Linked DNA regions of Homo sapiens. The protein of the gene in region 1 purifies or fractionates together with the protein of each later gene. This does not show direct contact. Each region holds a gene or a part of one and is shown in the gene's direction. Other genes may lie near its edges. The genes, in order: EML1, XPOT and PRPS2.

The links.
Region 2: the proteins of EML1 (region 1) and XPOT fractionate together in Homo sapiens (co-fractionation; one large-scale study listed by BioGRID). This does not show direct contact.
Region 3: the proteins of EML1 (region 1) and PRPS2 purify together in Homo sapiens (affinity purification with mass spectrometry; one large-scale study listed by BioGRID and IntAct). This does not show direct contact.

Annotation. Positions count from the first base shown.
Region 1 is NC_000014.9:99,791,990-99,796,296, forward strand, and holds the start of EML1 (echinoderm microtubule-associated protein-like 1), read left to right. Parts: upstream 1-1,423; 5' UTR 1,424-1,487; coding exon 1,488-1,554; intron 1,555-4,307. UniProt on the Homo sapiens protein: Modulates the assembly and organization of the microtubule cytoskeleton, and probably plays a role in regulating the orientation of the mitotic spindle and the orientation of the plane of cell division.
Region 2 is NC_000012.12:64,431,817-64,435,467, forward strand, and holds part of XPOT (exportin-T), read left to right. Parts: coding exon 1-7; intron 8-1,597; coding exon 1,598-1,787; intron 1,788-2,690; coding exon 2,691-2,807; intron 2,808-2,977; coding exon 2,978-3,093; intron 3,094-3,651. UniProt on the Homo sapiens protein: Mediates the nuclear export of aminoacylated tRNAs. In the nucleus binds to tRNA and to the GTPase Ran in its active GTP-bound form. Docking of this trimeric complex to the nuclear pore complex (NPC) is mediated through binding to nucleoporins.
Region 3 is NC_000023.11:12,797,819-12,801,469, forward strand, and holds part of PRPS2 (ribose-phosphate pyrophosphokinase 2), read left to right. Parts: intron 1-1,388; coding exon 1,389-1,572; coding exon of another isoform or gene 1,573-1,581; intron 1,582-3,651. UniProt on the Homo sapiens protein: Catalyzes the synthesis of phosphoribosylpyrophosphate (PRPP) that is essential for nucleotide synthesis.

The DNA of each region.
Region 1 (4,307 bases):
CTTCAGCCTTCACTCACAATGTATCTTCCCAATTAACAATCCTGCTAGGACAGGAATAAGCTCTTAAACTTCTCCCTCTGCCCACAGCATATAGCACCAGTCCTTACTAACCCATGCACTAACCGTGCCGCACGCAGAGTGACAGAGCCCTGTCCCTCACCTGCCATCTACTGATGTCCAAGCTGGGCTTCTGGAAGGACAGGCCTCTGAGCCCAAGCGAGACCTACGAGTTTTCCTAATTTTAACTTACTCAGTTCTTATTTCACCTACTCTATTCAACCTGCACAAGTTAGTACCTACCATTTCAGATTTTGGCATGGAACTGAATTATGACTGATGCAACAGGAAGTGTAAACGTTCTGCAGTCTCTTTGGGACCAAGCTCATTCTTGGGTTAGATGATCCATTTTATATATTCTAATTTATTGCTTCCCACTCGTTATTTGGCGCATCTTTACTTACTTTACTCCATGGGTATAAAATGCGAACCATTAACAGCATTTATACGTGTATGGCCTGGAAAAGTTACAAACTCATAGATCTATGTGTTTCTCCGACTGCGCTATTTTCTCCTAACTCTTGGTGTCTTTCTGATGTAGAATAAATACTGATTTCCTTAGTCCTGTAGCAAGTTAACAAGCCTGTAACGTGACAGATCTGTATCCCAGGGGCTGATCATAGAGAAACCACAAAGCGATGTTTTAGCTGCGTCGAGTCCTCAACACGGGGGACTTCCAGCCTGGTACCAGGATAGCCTCTCTGGCCCAGTGTGAGCGAAGGTTCGAGCTGACTTGCCAGTCCCGTGCTAAGTCTCACTGAGGCAGGGCCTTGCTGCCGCGGAAAAACGTGTGGACAGAGGAACGCGCCGGTCGGATGTGGGCCACAGTGAGCCGCGGCGTGGAAACGGCCGAAATGTGCGGGCGCGTTGTCCATGTTTGGTCGTGGAGCTGCCCGCGGGCGCGGGAACAGCGCGTCGGGGGCGGGTGGGCTTGGGTGTCCGTGGCGGAGGTTACCCCGGGCCCCACGCGCCCGCTCTCTCCCGGCCTTGGTCTTTGTCCCCGCGCCCCCGCAAGGGCCGCCCGCCGCGCCCCGCAGCCCCTGAGCCCCCGTGCGCGGAGGCGGGGCCTGGCCAAGGGGACAGCGGGCGGCAGACGCGCCCCTGCGGCTCCCAGGCCGCCCGGGCCGCGCTCCCCGCGGGGAAAGAGGCCGCAGGCGCGGGGAGGCTCGGCCCCGCCCCGCCACGTCCCCCTCCCGGCCCGGGCCCCGCGGCCGCCGAGGCCGCCCCCTCGCGGGCGGAGCGGGCGCTGGGCTCGCGCGGCTGCGGCGGCGGCGGCGGGCCCGGGGTTGCCATGGTAACCGGCAGCAGCAGCCGCCACAGCAGGGCCGGCCCCAGCGCCAGCGCCGGTCGCGGTCGGGCTCAGCTCAGTGTGTGGTGAGCGGCGGCGGCGCGGCCGGGCCGGGGAGCGGGCGCGGCCCGGCGGCCTCAGCATGGAGGACGGCTTCTCCAGCTACAGCAGCCTGTACGACACGTCCTCGCTGCTCCAGTTCTGCAACGGTGAGGGGCGGCCGCGCGGGGCCGGGGCGGCGAGCGGCTGGTGGCGGGCGGCGGCGACGGCGACGGCGGGGACCAAGCCGAGGGGCCGAGGCCCGGCGGCCGCGGGCGAGGCCGCGCAAAGTTGTTGCGGAGGGGCGCGCGGTCCCCGTTCCCGCCGCCGGCGCATTGTGTTGGAGCCGCGGGGCCGCGCCTCGCTCCGGGCCGCCCCGGGCTCCCCGCCGCCACCCCGGCTCCCGGCACTGGCGCGCGGACCCCGCCGGCTCCAGCACCCGCGGAGCGCGCCCGGGCGGAGGCGCGTGGGGCACAGGGCGGCGGGGAGGCCCGGGCAGCCTCCGCGTTCCGGGGAACGTGTTGCTTTTTTGCTTCCCGACCCACATCTGTTTGGAAATGACTGGATGAAGAACTCGGGAAACAAATCCTTTAATAACAAAACCCTCCTGCGAGGATGCACGCAGTGTTTGGACCCCCAGAACCCATTCAGGTCTACTTTAATGAAATCATCACAATTTAATACAATCTAGAGCTTTTTAAATGGAAAGCCAAAGTGGACCTGGCCTCAGTGTTGCTTCTTATTTTGTTTATGGGATAATGGATTCTTTTTTCTTTTTTTGTTTTTGCAATTTTACAGGAAGGAAACATTCATATCCACCAATATGGCATCTTTTTAAAAATATGAAATCCTACATGCTTGAAAGATTTCAGTCTCATTGGCAGGGTTGAAAAAGATTTTCATAGCACACTGAATATTTTATCAGAACATGATGTGTGATAATTCACGCACAAAAGTTAACCACACTTTTTTTTTTTTTTACATGTTGGATTTATTGCTCCATCAAAGGGCCCCAAAAGTTTGTTAATGGGAAAAAAAAATGTGTATTTGATAGAATTTGCTTAAGTGCAGTCGGAATAATTTTGAATTCTAGACCCTTTGACAACTGGAGCAATTTATTTTGCTATTGTATTGTGATTTAGGGAAAGTTTTCTTGTTATTCGACACCTGTTTGTCACTGTAGCAGTAAAGAGTAATGAGTGTGTTGATTCATCCTCTGTAGTGGTATTTTTTATCTCTGGTGAAATTTATCATCTTGTTCATGGTAGAATGTATACTCTGATAGCTTTTGCAGCTTATACTTTACATCTGAACCATTTGTGGGCCTTCATGAATTTAGTAATTCCCTCTTCAGTGGAATTAAAGAAAGTTTCTGCTTTTTCTCTGAATTTAACGCCAGTTTCCAAGAGCAGAACACCTGTGTTTTTGAGCCTCAGAAGGTGTTGAGGGCAGGTAGAATGTATTTGGTATGCTGGTGGTCCCTGGAATACTTTATAGTATAGAGTCATGGGAACGGTTTTGCTCTCCAGTAGGTTAAATAGATTCCTCAATTAACATTTTGAATAGGTTCCTTAATTGACTTATAATCAATCATATTTGAATTATTGTTTTTGATCTAAAAAGTAGTTATATGCTTATGGTAGAATTCTCCCTATGCTTAGTTGGAAAGATATGTGGCTGAAATTTGTATTAAATGACTTTGAGGCATCAGGTCTTACAAATTTAATCTGTGGGCGTATTATTGACAGCTTGATTTGCGATATGAAAATGAGCCTAGATATTTTTATTGGAGCAGTTGTTTGGGGCCTGGTCATACTGTTCCTAAATAGCAGTTTAGTCATGAAGTTGACCTACACGTCTGTTCATGAATGTTTTCGTTTTCTGCATTTTCCTTTTAATTGCCAGCCTAGAGATATTGGCATGGTATTTTACTGGTGGTGATGTCCAGAAGAAAGTAAAAACCAACTCTTATATTTTGTAGAAGTATTGGTTTAAAGAAAAACCACCTTAACTAGAATCAAACAATAAGATCACTTTATAACTATTGAATTACTTTTCTCAAAAAGTTCTCAGCTCTGTATTTGTTATTTTTTTTTTAGGTTGTCTAATGAATAAAGTTTAAAGCAAGAGTGGCCTATGGGGCAGAAGTCAATGTTAACTGGTGATGTCTTAGGCAACAGATGTTTTGATGTGAAACATTTTAAGAGGCTTTCATTAAGTGAAGATATAAATGAATACAAGTCAGTTAATTACTATGATGATTCAATTAAAGCAGTGGATCACAGAAATGCCATTTCACTAGGAACTAAATTAAACATTTGGATATTTCATTAGCTACATTGGCAAACAATTTTTTCTTTTTAAATGAGAGACTTACATTACAATGGCAAGACAGCAGCATAATACATGAACTCATACATTTTCATATGTTCAGTATGCGTCATGCTGTTAATAGTGACAGAAACTAAAAAATCATGGTTACAGCTTTAGAAAATATAATTCACACATATTATTTGGATGACTGTCATAGTTAATTTCCTTCTGGTCAAATAAAGACAAGATCAAGATATGCGAAGTTGAGGCGGGAGGATTACTTGCAGCCAAGAGTTTGAGAGCAGCCTGGGCAACATAGCAAGACCCCCCTCTACAAAAAATTTTTAAAAGTTGGCTGGGCATGGTGGCTTGAACCTGTAATCCTAGCTACTCAGGAGGCTGAGATGGGAGGATTGATTGAGCCCAGAAGTTTGAAGCTGCAGTGAGCTATGACTGTGCCACTGTACTACAGCCTGGGTGACAAAGTGAGACCCTGTCTCAGAGAGAGAGAGAGAGAGAGAGAGAGAGAGAGAGAGAGAGAGAGAAGATAATGTGTAAATGAGAAGGGAGAAAGAGAAAAGTTTGTTCTAATGAATGAAATTTCTGTCTT
Region 2 (3,651 bases), on another chromosome or scaffold:
ATTCAAGGTACCGCAAACTTTCAGAGCTCTGAAAATCTCTTGAAGATCAGATGTATTTATCTTCAGACATGTTTCGGATTTTGCCCTTGGGTTTCTTTTTTTTTGCTTTTAATGAATTACTTAAGAGCCTCATGGATCATATGTATTTTTATCATCTGTGGTGTCTGGCACACTGCCTGATACATAGGTCATGCTTAATAGATGTTTGAATATAAACAGACCCTAACCGCTTTGTGTAGCAAAAGAAAACTAGTCTGCTGTTTTAGAAGAGCATATAAAACCAGTAAACTGAGTACTAAATAAGCACCATAATTCAGGTACCCAAGCAAGAGTTAAAAGTAATTCAATGTATTAAAGTCAGTTTTCTGTAGGACATTTAAGCTGGCTAATAAAAGTGGTTAATACTTACATAGTACCTCTTTTTTCCTTTTTTCTTTTTTTTTTAAATGGAGATAGTCTCACTCTGTCACATAGGCTGGAGTGCAGTGGCGCGGTCACAACTCACTGCAACCTCCACCTCCCAGGTTCAAGCGATTCTTGTGCCTCAGCCTCCTGAGTAGCTGGAACTATAGGTGCATGCACCACACCACGCTAATATTTTGTACTTTTAGTAGAGACAGCGTTTCCCCATGTTGACCAGGCTAATCTCGAACTCCTGACCTCAAGTGATCCTCCTGCCTCGGCCTCCATAAGTGCTAGGATTACAGGCATAAACCTGGCCACTTACATAGTACTTTCTATGTTCAAAATCTGTTCTAAGCATTTTTTGTACATTTACTCATTTGATCTTCATACCTACCCTAGAAGACAGGGATTATATGTTATAGTTGAGGAAACTGAGGCATGGAGAAGTGAAGGGATTTGCCCAAGAGTTCATAAAACTCAGGAGTTCATTTGTAAGCAAGTATTGAGAACATGCTATTAAACAATGTTTTTTACCTTTGTTCAAAAACAAGAAAAACCCTAAGAGTTTAATCATATAATTCATTTTTTGAGAATTTAATTTTGAAAATATTCCATGGCAATATTGTGAAATATGTCTGACTATTATTTTAACCTAAATCTTAAGCTGTAGGAAAGGGTTTAAATTTAATGATCTTGAGTCTTTTAGTAATATTTTTTAAGGTTTTTTCCCCACCTTGAAATGGAGTCTTGCTGTGTTGCCCAGGCTGGAGTGCAGTGGTATGATCTTGACTCACTGCAACCTCCACCTCTCAGGTTCAAGCAGTTCCCCTGCGTCAGCCTCCTGAGTAGCTTGGACTGGGACTACAGGCGTGCGCCACTACACCCAGCTAATTTTTGTATTTTTAGTAGAGATGGGGTTTCACCATGTTGGGCAGACTGGCCTTGAACTCCTGACCTCAGGTGACTCACCCGCCTTAGCCTCCCAAAGTGCTGGGATTACAGGTGTGAGCCACTGCGTCTGGCCTAGTAATGTTTAGGTTATATAGATTTTATCTTAAAATTGATATTTGCTAACTGAATTATGTACGCATGCATCCTAAATAGAAAAGAAAGGCTTTATGTAAAATAGTTTTTTCTAAGTTGTATGTTAATATTGTTACTAATTTCTGAAGTAATGATTGTTTATCTTCAGATACAGGTATCCCCGTTTTTACAACAGATGTTCATGCCCCTGCTTCATGCAATTTTTGAAGTGCTGCTCCGGCCAGCAGAAGAAAATGACCAGTCTGCTGCTTTAGAGAAGCAGATGTTGCGGAGGAGTTACTTTGCTTTCCTGCAAACAGTCACAGGCAGTGGGATGAGCGAAGTTATAGCAAATCAAGGTGGGAACACATGCCATATCTAATTTGTCTGCTTAAGTCTGTGTCACTGTTGTACATCTATATGACCAAGAGCAAACTGAAGTAAATACAGAAATTTTGAAGTTTGCTATCCCATGGGAAGACAGTTTATTGTTTTCAGGGTGGGAATTGATCACTTTTATGTAAAGCACCTAAAATTAATTTGTATTCTGTTCCTTTTTCTTTCTGCAATATTTTTTTAATTTGGTTCTTTAGCAATATAAATAACATGGTTACTTACCAGAATTGACCTGACAATTGAGTCTTTATGGCAAATTTGCCATTTTGAAATATAAAATAAATGGAGCTGTACAGATTTGTGTAGAGAATTCTGTATAGGAAATTTAGGGAACAAGATACCAGGGGCAAACTGATTTTTCATTGTTTTATTTTTTAATTTGATTTGATTTGTGAGATAGGGTCTCACTCTCTTGCCCAGGCTGTAGTGCAGTGGTGTCATCACGACTCATTGCAACCTCCACCTCCTGGGCTATCCTCCCATCTCTACCTCCTGAGTAGCCAGGACCATTGGCAGTTGCCACAATGCTGGGCTTATTTTTTGTAGAGATGGGATCTCACCACGTTGCCCAGGCTGGTTAAACTCCTGGGCTCAAGCAATCTTCCTCGGCCTTACAAAGGGCTGGAATTACAGACAGGAGCCACCGCGCCCAGCTGATTTTTCAGTGTTTAATGTTTAAACTTTAGGTGCCCAGTTAATAAAAATCAAGGGATTTTGGCAATTCTGTAAATGCTTTTTTCCCCCTTCATTTTTCCCATTCCACCTGTAAATGATTTTTGACTTGTTAATGTATATGAAAAGAGAACTTCAGGTTGCTTTCCTAGTTAATTTTGGAAATTGCTTAAACTAAAGGTTTTTCTCCTCAGGTGCAGAGAATGTAGAAAGAGTGTTGGTTACTGTTATCCAAGGAGCAGTTGAATATCCAGATCCAATTGCACAGAAAACATGTTTTATCATCCTCTCAAAGTTGGTAGAACTCTGGGGTAAGATAATTTTATTTCTTAACCTTCATTTCCCAAACTCTTTCATAAAACTCTTAGACATAATGGAACATAGCCCTAACAGAGAGAGAAACTGGGAGTTGGTTTTCCCTGGTGATGAATTAATTGACTTACTTTTATATATAAGATGAAAATTTGAATTCTCTTGACAGGAGGTAAAGATGGACCAGTGGGATTTGCTGATTTTGTTTATAAGCACATTGTCCCCGCATGTTTCCTAGCACCTTTAAAACAAACCTTTGACCTGGCAGATGCACAAACAGTATTGGTAAGCACCTAGGAATCTTTGTTTACCTTGTGTAGCTCATATATTCCCAATTTCTTCTTTAATGCCAGGTTGATTATATTATGTTTCATTGATTTTTTTTTTAACTTAGTGATTTCAGATCAGGGTTCTTTTTTTAAAGATTTATGATACCTTCTGGAGTTTTTATGAATTCTTATTGAATCCCAATGCTACTGCTGAATTTTACAAATTCTACTCCTTCGACTTTAACACCTGACTTTTTCTAGGACCATGAAAGGGCATATGTCACAAACATTCTTTCAAGCTTGAGTATTAGTTTCCTACTACTACTTTAATTCTAAAACTTGTACCTAGTGGTTTTCCCTAATCATTAAGAGCATGAAATGGCAACTTGATCCTCCTTGTATGATAGTTTCCCCAAATCTAATTTTCACAATACTTAATGTCAATTTCCGCTTTCTCACTTTCCCACAACCTGGTAAAAGCTAGATTTCATAATTGTAATTTACTACGTTAAAACAACAGTTTGTATTTTTCTGTTTTTTTTCTTTTTTTACTTCAACCCACTTAGTCCATCTG
Region 3 (3,651 bases), on another chromosome or scaffold:
CTGTACCTGGAAATACAGAAACTTCCAGACATGCAATTTTCAAAAACTTAGCTGCTATTTACTCTTTCTCCAGAAGCTACGCAAGGATGCCAACCAGCAAAACAAGGAAGTATACCAAGAAAGAGGATACAGAAAATGGCAAATGGAGTGCAGGAGAGGGGGCAGGGAATCCCCGGATGGCAGCTGTGCACAGGCAGAGAGATAACCCAGGCCTGCCACCCCTGGGAGGGATGCCTGCAAGACGATGAAATGCAGATGGGACTTGAGGCCTCTGATCTTGGGAGATTTTGATTGTTAGTGAAGGGTTTAGGGTGGAATCTGGATTCAGGATTCAGAAAACTTAGCAGATAAAAAGGTAAGAGAATGACCTCCAGGGAAAATAAAAAGAAAAGATGTGCATAAAAAGAAAATACAAGCATTCGTTTAAGTTAATTGCATGGCAGAGCTCTGAGCAGCATTTGCGCAGTTAAAAACGTACAGTCAATCTTTAATGTGAATATTGATCTATATTGGGATGATGGCGAGATGGGAAGTTTACATTGCAAGTGATGGAACTGAATGGAAATGGAGTTCAGTCCTCATCTTCCATAGTGAGAAGTCAATACACTTTGCCTAAAATGAAAAATCAAGACACAGCAATACACACATAGTAGCTAGACTTGAAGGAAAGTATCCAAAAACCCTATCAAGAGTTGAAATTGGTGGCCTCTGGGCACTTTCTCTGTTATACGTCTTACAGAATGGTTTGAATTTTTTAAGCAATATGACTGTATAACTTTAATAAAAAACTAAAACTAAATGTAGTATTTTGCAGAAAAGAGTTAACATTAGCAGGCCTGAGACTTAGGCCTGTTCGCAAGGTTGGCCCTTGGCTGGCCTCTGGGAGCTTACATTTTGCAAGGGTACCCACCATTTCCCAGTAAGGATGGCTCACTGCATAAACTCTTAAACAATTGATAAACAATGTGGTTCATGCTGAATGCCTGTGAGTCTGACATTTTGGTACGTGCTAGGCAGAGGGTGCTTATATGACCAGCCCACAATACAAACCCTGGGACTTGAGTCTCTAAGCAGCTTCCCTGGTAGAGAGCCCTTCACACGTGTTGTCACAGCTCACTACTGGGGCATTAAGCTCTACCTCTGACTCCCCTCAGGGAGGAGTCTTGGAAGCTTGCACCCTGTTTCCCCCAACTTCACCCCATGCACCTTTTTCCCTTTGCTGAGTTTGCTCTGTGTCCTTTCTCTGCAATAAATTACAGCCATGAGTGCAACTATTAGGCTGAGTCCTATAAGTCATCCTGGTGATCATCAAACCTAGGGGTGGTCTCAGGGACGCCCAAGATGCAAATATGCTTCGATATTAACCGATGGCAGTTTTCTTTTCCTAGCGTGGAGATTGGTGAAAGCGTGAGAGGGGAAGATGTCTACATCATCCAGAGCGGCTGCGGGGAAATTAACGACAACCTGATGGAACTCCTCATCATGATCAATGCCTGCAAGATTGCGTCATCATCCAGAGTAACTGCCGTGATCCCGTGTTTCCCATACGCCCGACAAGATAAAAAGGACAAGGTAGGAGAGGTGTGTGCCCTAGAAACCTGCTGTGGGCCACTGTCAATGTTGTTTTTCCTCATTTATCCCCTTGATTAGAATTATCTGGAAAATGTTGGCTTTTTCCTTTGATGATCAAGTAAATATGCTTTCTTATTTTGTTTGTTGAAGATTTGGCTTTGAACCTACCCTGACATTAATATTCAAAGAAACAGGTAATGCATATTTTTGCAGGTATTAAAATACCATTATTGTCCTTGTTATAATGAAATTATTGTATGTCTTTGTGGTGGTGGATAGAACTAAATACACACACATACATGCACAAGAGTACAAGTCAAACTAGAGCACATCTGAATCAGATCACTGGATTGTATCAATTTCAGGGTCCTGGCTGTGATACTGTGTTATAGTTTCACAAGACGTTACCACAGGGAACTAGGTAAAAGGTTCACAGGATCTCTGCGTTGTTTCATACAACTGCATGTCTATCTACAATTCCCCCGAAATAAAAAGTTTAATTAAAAAAAAAACCCATGATCTCTTTTTAACCTTTTAAAAAGAACAGAAATAGTATCATTGAATTATGTTTTTCACAACATTAGCATCAGAGGAGGCTCTGTGAGTCTTTAGAAAAAAATTGAAGAAAATGTGGTTGGTCTTTGCCTTTCAGAGCAACAGAGAAATCGGAGGTTGAGAAGAACTTTGAAGGAGATTGTATTAGTTTTCTAAGCTGTCATAAGAAATTACATAAACCGCGTGGCTTAAAAGAGCAGAAATTTTTCCCTCACAGTTTCGGAGGCCCAGAAGTGTGAAATCAAGGAATGGGCAGGGGCACGCTCCCTCTGAAGGCTGTAAGGGAGGCTGCTTCCTCGCTTCTTCCAACTTCTGGTGTCTCCTTGCATTCCTTGGCTGTGGCTACATCACTCTGGTCCCTGCCTCTCTCTTCACCTGGCCTCTTCCCTGTGTCTCTTCTCTGTTTCTTATAAGGACACTGTCATTGGATTTCAGGCCTAACCTAATCCAGAATGAACTCAACTTAATCTTTACCTTGGTTATATTTGCAAAGACCCTATTTCCAAAATGAGGTCACATGCTGAAGTTGTGGGTGGACATGAGTTTTGGGGGGATATTGTTTGACCTACTACAGTGGTCAACTCCCAGCTGTTGTGTGTTCCGTATCTTATGGATAGATAGATGTTCAGCCAGGCTCAGCGAGAATCCTGCCAGTTTTCAAGACACACTGCTGTTCTGTGATTTGGTAACTCAGTGCAAGAAAGGTTTTCCCCAATATGCTGCTTTTTATCTCCATAATTCATTTCTGAAACAACACAGATTTCTGAAGCAGCACACAAGATCCCCTCATATTTGAAAAAAACCCTTTATAAATTTGAATTCATATACCAAAGTCCCCCTGAATTTTAATCCCAGTCTCCTCAAGACATGGTTTCCATTCCCTGTCTTGAAGATGGCCAGTCAGTTAATTTCTCACCTAAAATCTAATTAGAAGGGTCCACATACTTTATCTGTAAATGGCTATATGGTCTGTGTTGCAACTATTCAACTCTGGTTGTACTTCAAAAAGAGCAATAGACAATATGTAAATGAATGGGTATGGCTGTGTTCCAATAAAACTTTATTTATGGACACTGAAATGTGAATTTCATATTATTTTCACATGCCTTGAAATACTATTTTGAATTTTTTTCAACCATTTAAACATGTGAAAGCCATTATTAGCTCACAAGCAGTACCAAAACAAGTGGCTGGTGGCTGGTGGCTAGCTGGATTTGGCCTATAGGCTACAGTTTGCCAACCCCTGTATTAGACCATTGATAGATTGCGTGCGCACGTGTGTGTGTGTGTGTGTGTGTGTGTGTGTGTATGTGTGTGTGTGTTTATGATCTAAACTTGACCTTGGGCAGCCAAAACCTTAGGTCACATACACTGCTGTGAAGCTGTATCCTCCCACTAGCTATTTATACAGACAGCTCCTTTTATTTTAAACTTGATTTAAACTGTATTTTTAGCTGTTAAATTTCAATTTTCTAATTTTGTCCCATTGGTATAATCTGTTGTCTTAGCTATTCTTCCCATCTG